Homo sapiens: one gene and its partner. The protein of the gene in region 2 purifies or fractionates together with the protein of the main gene of each other region. This does not show direct contact. Each region holds a gene or a part of one and is shown on either strand. Other genes may lie near its edges.

What was found. Proteins that work in one complex are often made in the same cells at the same time.
Region 1: the proteins of LIPF (region 2) and NGLY1 purify together in Homo sapiens (affinity purification with mass spectrometry; one large-scale study listed by BioGRID and IntAct). This does not show direct contact.

The regions. Positions count from the first base shown.
Region 1 is NC_000003.12:25,734,944-25,738,443, reverse strand, and holds part of NGLY1 (peptide-N(4)-(N-acetyl-beta-glucosaminyl)asparagine amidase), read left to right. Parts: intron 1-988; coding exon 989-1,110; intron 1,111-2,043; coding exon of another isoform or gene 2,044-2,135; intron 2,136-2,294; coding exon 2,295-2,440; intron 2,441-3,500. UniProt on the Homo sapiens protein: Specifically deglycosylates the denatured form of N-linked glycoproteins in the cytoplasm and assists their proteasome-mediated degradation. Cleaves the beta-aspartyl-glucosamine (GlcNAc) of the glycan and the amide side chain of Asn, converting Asn to Asp.
Region 2 is NC_000010.11:88,670,942-88,674,441, forward strand, and holds part of LIPF (gastric triacylglycerol lipase isoform 2 precursor), read left to right. Parts: intron 1-887; coding exon 888-1,024; intron 1,025-2,646; coding exon 2,647-2,793; intron 2,794-3,500. UniProt on the Homo sapiens protein: Catalyzes the hydrolysis of triacylglycerols to yield free fatty acids, diacylglycerol, monoacylglycerol, and glycerol. Shows a preferential hydrolysis at the sn-3 position of triacylglycerol.

The DNA of each region.
Region 1 (3,500 bases), on a different chromosome or scaffold from region 2:
AAACCCATCTCAACACAAAATGCAAAATTTAGTGTTCTTGAATTGTCTGGTAATTTTATAATTGGAGTAACTTCTGAAAAGAATGTTACAAATAGATCCCAAAAAACAACTTCCAAATTAGCAGGCACCTTTAAATACTTCAAAAGAGTAAAATTTTAATCAAAATGATTATTAGAAAGAAAGATAATATTTTAGATAAAATTGAATTAAACTAAGCTAAAATTTTTGTTGAGTAATTTGTTAAAGTTGTTTACCTTTTAAATACAGTGAGCTAGCTATACCACTTTAGTGCTAATGCTTTAGGCAAATTGCCTAGAGAATTTGCTTCTCCAAATCTTACATTATTCAAAACACAGATCAAATAAAAGCTCTCCTCACCAGCCACTTTCTGACCTGTTGTATTGTTTGATCACTAATCTGACCTGTTGTATTGTTTGATCACATTCTGCCATATATTTAAATTATTTGTGTTCATCCCTTTCCTCAGGATTGTGAACACCTTGAAAGCAGTACTACCGTTTAATTATTTTTCACCAAATGTTCTAACATTGTGCCTCATATATTCTAGATTTCTAAATAAATATTTAAAAACAAATTAAAGGCCGGGCGCAGTGGCTCACACCTGTAATCTCAGCACTTTGGGAGGCTGAGGCGGGCGAATCACGAGGTCAGGAGATCGAGACCATCCTGGCTAACATGGTGAAACCCCGTCTCTACTGAAAATACAAACAAAATTAGCCAGACCTGGTGGCATGCACCTGTAGTCACAGATACTCTGGAGGCTGAGGCAGGAGAATCACTTGAACCTGGGAGGCGGAGGTTGCAGTGAGCCGAGATTGCGCCACTGCACTCCAGCCTGGGTGACAGAGCAAGACTCCGTCTCAAAAAAAAAAAAAAAATTAAACATTTCTGTTTAGCATAGAGGTAATGTAAATTCTCTTAAAAATCTTGATTTTGATAATTAAGGTTTTTTTTCTTTTTAAACCAGATATAATAACCCTGAGAAACTTTTGGAAACAAGATGTGGACGGTGTGGCGAGTGGGCCAATTGTTTTACACTGTGCTGCCGAGCTGTAGGGTTTGAAGCTCGCTATGTTTGGGATTACACAGGTACAGAATGTGGAATGAGCAGAGGGTAGTAGGGCTTTGCAGGCTTGCAGGTTTGGGTTTACATTCTGAGCCCATGATTCTCTGTTACTTTTTGGCCTTGTCAGTCTGACCTTCCATTTGCCTTGTGTAAAACAGTAATAATACCAACCTTCCAGGTTTTTTGAAGGGATCACAAGAGTTTTGTAAAACACCTAGCACTGTGCCTGGTGCTTTGCACTATAAATATTCCTTTTTTTCCCCTTTATTTTTTTATTGATGCATAATAGATGTACATATTTGGGGGATACTTGTAATGCATTTATATAAATTCTACAGAGCAAATCAGTATTATTGGGATGTCTGAGATCTTAAATATTTGTCTTTATGCTGGAAACATTTGAATTACTCTCTTCTAGCTATTATGAAATATGCAGTGGATTATTGTAAACTGTAAACACCCTATTGATCTATCAAACACTAGGTCTTGTTTCTTTTATTAGCAATTTACCGTGGCATTTATAGTGATGCTGTTTATATATGGATAAAAACATGTAATAATGTACCATAGAAATCTTCATTGCTATAGGGATTACTGTAAAAAATTTAGTAAACTATAAACTTAAAGCACAGTATACAGAAATAATAAAAGTCATGTGATATTTGTGTTGTCCCTATTTAGAAATAACTTGTGTGGTCTACATGTTAAAAAGTTGTTTTCCTTGTGTTTCCATTTTCTAAAGAATTAAATGAAACCTTCCATTAATAGTTAGTGTTCTCTTAAAATCAAATATAAAGCATGTATTGACCAGAGATTCTATTAGACTTCCTGCTGGTTCTGGGCCTTAAAGTCCAGAGAGAGAGACTGTAGTTTCAAAAGTGGCATTAACTCCTTCATGATAGTAAACTCAGGATGATATTTTTTATGCTGCTCTTTAATATGTCTACCTTCTTAAGAGTTACAGCGCACATTAAGCCTAAAACTGACCACGTTAAAGGAGATTGGAAAAACATTTTTAAGGATTTCAAAGAGACAGAAATTAATACAGGTATTCTAAAATCCTGTGTGCCACAAAATGCACTTATTAACTGAAATTCAGAATATTATGCATTACTTTATGATTCTTAGGAGTTTGTGTATAGTTATTGAAAGTCATTCTGATTTCATTGTCTTTTTTCCATTGCTCTCTTTTCTCTTACTTGAGTAGACCATGTCTGGACAGAAGTCTATTCTCCTTCTCAGCAGCGGTGGCTGCACTGTGATGCATGTGAAGATGTCTGTGACAAGCCACTCCTTTATGAAATAGGATGGGGCAAGAAGCTTTCCTATGTCATAGCATTTTCAAAAGATGAGGTAGAGCATAAAAGAAAAAAACTTTTTTCCAAAAGTAAAATATATTTTTTTCTTTTATGACAGCTTCATGAATGTATAATTAACATACAATAACCTGCATATATTTAAATTGTACAGTTTGATAAGTTTTATTTGTATACACTGAAATCATCACTGCAAATCAGTATTCATTGTATGGATGTGCCATAGTTTACCATTTCACCTGTTGATGGCTATTTGGGTAGTTCCCAGTTTTTTTCACAATTTCAAATTAAGCTGCCATGAACACTCAGGCACACAAGTCTTTATATGGGCATATGCTGCCTTTTCTCTTTGCTTAATGCCTAGGAGTAGAATGGCTGCATTATATGGTAGATATACATACAACTTTTTAAGAAACCACTAAACTATTTTCCAACGTGGTTGTGCCATTTTACATTTTCGCAAGCAGTATGTAAGTTTCCAGTTTCTCCATGTCCTTGCTAACATTTAGTATGATCTGACTTTTTAATTTTATCCCCTTTAATAGGTGTGTAGTGGCATTTCATTATGGTTTTTATTTGTACTTCCCTAATGACAAATAATACTGAGCATCTTTTTATGTGTTTGCTTACCATCCATATGTCCCCTTTGCTTATTTTTTTTAATTGGGTATTGTGTTTTCTTACTGTTTGGTTTTGAGAGTTCTTTATATATTCTTATATAAGTCCATTATCAGATATGTGCTTTGCAAAGATTTTTCTCCCTATCTGTAGTTTGTCTTTTTATGCTCTTAATGATTTTTGAAGAGAAGAAACTGGCGTTCAGTTTACCAATTGGTTGTTTTATGGATTGTGCTTTTTGATGTTATATTTAAGAAATTTTGCCTAGCCCTTGGTCACAATGATTTTCTCCTATGTTTTGTTTTAGAAGTTTTTTTTGGTTTTATGCTTATGTCTGCAATCCATTTTGAGTTAATTTTTTTATATGATCCAAGGTGTATGAAGTTTTTTTTTACATATGGATAATGAATTGTTCTAGCACCATTTATTGAAAAGATTATTTTTTCTCCATTGAATTGTCTTTCCACTTGTATCAAAAA
Region 2 (3,500 bases):
TCTTCCACAAATAGAACCAGACTACATATTATATAGTTGTCTATATCTGAAAGGGTTTTTTTTAGGCCATTCTTGAGTATCATCGATATGTCATTATTGACAGTGGGAGGGCCTTGCCTATGTAGCTATACTGCAGCGTTAAACTTGATAACTACTTGATCACATCCTCATCTGCCAGTATACTACTGCTTACAAAATTAATTCATTACTGAATGTATTTACTATGTATAGATATTTGAATTCTCTTGGGTCCTTATTTATCAAGCATTTACTATGTGCCAAGAATCATGATAAATTCTTTCTTTACATGATTTACTTCCTTTAGTTCCTAACAATCTAATGAAGCACTCACCACTATCCTTGTATTTCAGAGAGGGAAACAGTGGTTCTTAGAGATTAGGTGGCTTGTCCAAGGTCACAAAGCTAATAAACCACAGAGCCAGGATTCAAATTGAGTTTGGTCATATTTAAATTTCTACTCTTAACCTTTCCACTTATATACTCTACTCATATTAAGTGTTAATTAATTATCTCATTGTAATGAGATACATTTAAATTCATAAAAAATATAAATTCATAAAGAAATTCATAAAAAAATTTTTTGTAACCATATGAGTATCCTAAATTTGGTCTATTTTCTAAGGTCAGATAAAGGTTTATGATAACTTTTAAAACGTTCCAGCCTCATGTCCCCATAGAAAAATCTATGAAAATAAAACAAATATACCAAAATCTAATCACTGAGCCAGCAGAGATGCCAATTTCTCAGGCTGTCTCAAACACCATCCTTAGTAAGTCCAAAATAATGTCACACTTATAAAAACAAACAAAACAACAACAACAACACACACACACACCTTTTTCACCAGTTCCTTGTTCTTTTTCAGGTTTTATTGCCTTTTCCACCAATCCCAGCCTGGCTAAAAGAATCAAAACCTTCTATGCTCTAGCTCCTGTTGCCACTGTGAAGTATACAAAAAGCCTTATAAACAAACTTAGATTTGTTCCTCAATCCCTCTTCAAGGTATGCAATTCTCTTTAATTAAGTGAATCTAAGACCCTTGATTGCCCATGGATTTTAAAGTTATAGAAAGAGAACAGAGTTATAAAAAGAGAACAATCATTTTTATATCCAAAAATGGAACTGTTCGCATCTGTATTATTTCTTCCATAGCACTGACCATGTTTGAATCTCCTTACAGCCTGCGAGATCCCCCTTTCTTTCTTTGTTCTTCATGTGAGTCAGCAATGCCTGGGAGTAGTTTTGCTTTTTCACAGATGGTTTGTTTATTAAGCACTCTACACAGTTGTGTCAAGGCTGTGATTCCACTCCAGGAGGAGGGAAGATGAAATAAAAACAAAACAAAATAGTCAAATGAGAAGACTAACCCACTTGGGCCAGAGAGACTGGAAAGAGGAGGGAAAGGAAGGGGAGGGAAAGGGAGAAAAGGAGGAAATAAATCAGTGATTGAGTGAGGCAAACACCTTGAGATCTCTCATGGCTTTCCCTTTTGGCTTTCCTAAGAGCTCCTTCATCTTTAAATGGGCGATCTCATAAGTCAGTGGTGTGGATTTCAATAAATTATAAATATTAAGTGCCTTATGCAGTAGGCACACATGTTATGGAATTAATCGTTTTGTTTGACAATGCTTAATACCCTAATTCTCTCACCCAGTAAAACCAACACACACACACACACACACACACACACACACACACACACACACACTCTCTCTCTCTCTCTCTCTCTTTCCTTTAGGGGAACGGTTTAGCCTCAGGTTATAAAATATAAGGATTCCATTTCCTTCTATGGTTTTGTACTATTCATCTCTTTTCATTCTGTATTAATATGTATGTCTAAAGCCTAAGAGAACTTACCTATAGGCAAACTACATTTGGAAAACTTTTATTAAAATCTAAAATTTTTTGATGGCCCAGAAATATTTATTGGCTACATTGATTGAGAACTTATTTCCTACTCATACTCAGATTTTCTGATAGGCAATGCAGACGTAGATTAAAATTTAGAAAAGCAATAGACCTCAAGTTAGAGGCTTGGGTAAGGATTCTAGGTATAATCGAGCTCTAATTAGCCCAAGACCCTAACTCATGTTAACCTCATGTTTCCTCGTGTATAAAATAGAGATGACAAAATATCTGCCTTCCTCAAAGAGAGTTGGGGCAAACTCTTTCAATTCTTATACTGAGCCTCATTGCCTCTGTAAAGGCTTTGCTGAAAATATGGCCAAGTCACCATTTCTCCTCCCAAACTTTTCACAATTTATTGCTGAAATCTCACATCTTGGCACTTCATTATGACAGTCTGTCATGTGTTTTTAAGATTTTATCCCACAACTCCTATCACCCCAACTAGATTGTAACTCTTTGTGTCTTATACTTCCTCTCAGCAGCCAGTACAGTTCTCAGTGCCACAATAGATACCTAGTATTGATATCTGTGCTGCCCATTTCACAACTTTATTAGGGAATTAACTAAATGAAAGTATTGGAAATTCCTAAAACAACATGTAAGAATAAGAATATATCATCATCCTCATCACACATGTATAAGTAGATTAGATAAACTAGTGAGTCTTTTCTGCAGCTTGATTGCTACAACCCTCTAATAGTGCCTTTATTTTTCAGTTTATATTTGGTGACAAAATATTCTACCCACACAACTTCTTTGATCAATTTCTTGCTACTGAAGTGTGCTCCCGTGAGATGCTGAATCTCCTTTGCAGCAATGCCTTATTTATAATTTGTGGATTTGACAGTAAGAACTTTAACACGGTTAGTATGCATTTCAATTTCTATATTTTGAGCAACATCTTTGATTACTTGTTTCATTGCCACTTAGAAGTGGTACTTTATGAGAACTAGGAGTAGGTTCAGAACTGCGATATCCTGATAAACATGAGAGAAATCACAAATCATTGCTCCCAATTTAATCACTTCCAGCATCCTTCCATCACCCCAGTTGCCCCTAAACCAAATAAACAACATGAAGAAAAAACACAATTCACTACTCACTTATGACCACCTAAATACTAGGTGTTACATTTAAATTCTGTAAGAGAAAGGACTGAACCATATATTTTAGCAGGCTCCTTTGTGAGAAAAATGTCTAGATATTGAATAAATGTTTTCAATAAATATTTCTAATGCTGACAGTCATTTTGATAAATCTTACAGACTATATTTCTGAGCAACTATTTATGTAAGACTTTGCCCATATTCTTTTTTTGAGATAGAGTCTCGCTGTCACCCAGGCTGGAGTGCAGTGGCGCAATCTCGGCTCATAGCAAGCTCCGCCTCTTGGGTTCACGCCATTCTCCTGCCTCAGCCTCCCGAGTAGCTGGAACTACAGGCGCCCGCCACCACGCCCGGCTAATTTTTTGTATTTTTAGTACAGTCGGGGTTTCATCGCGTTAGCCAGGATGGTCTCAATTTCCTGACCTCATGATCCACACGCCTCAGCTTCCCAAAGTGCTGGGATT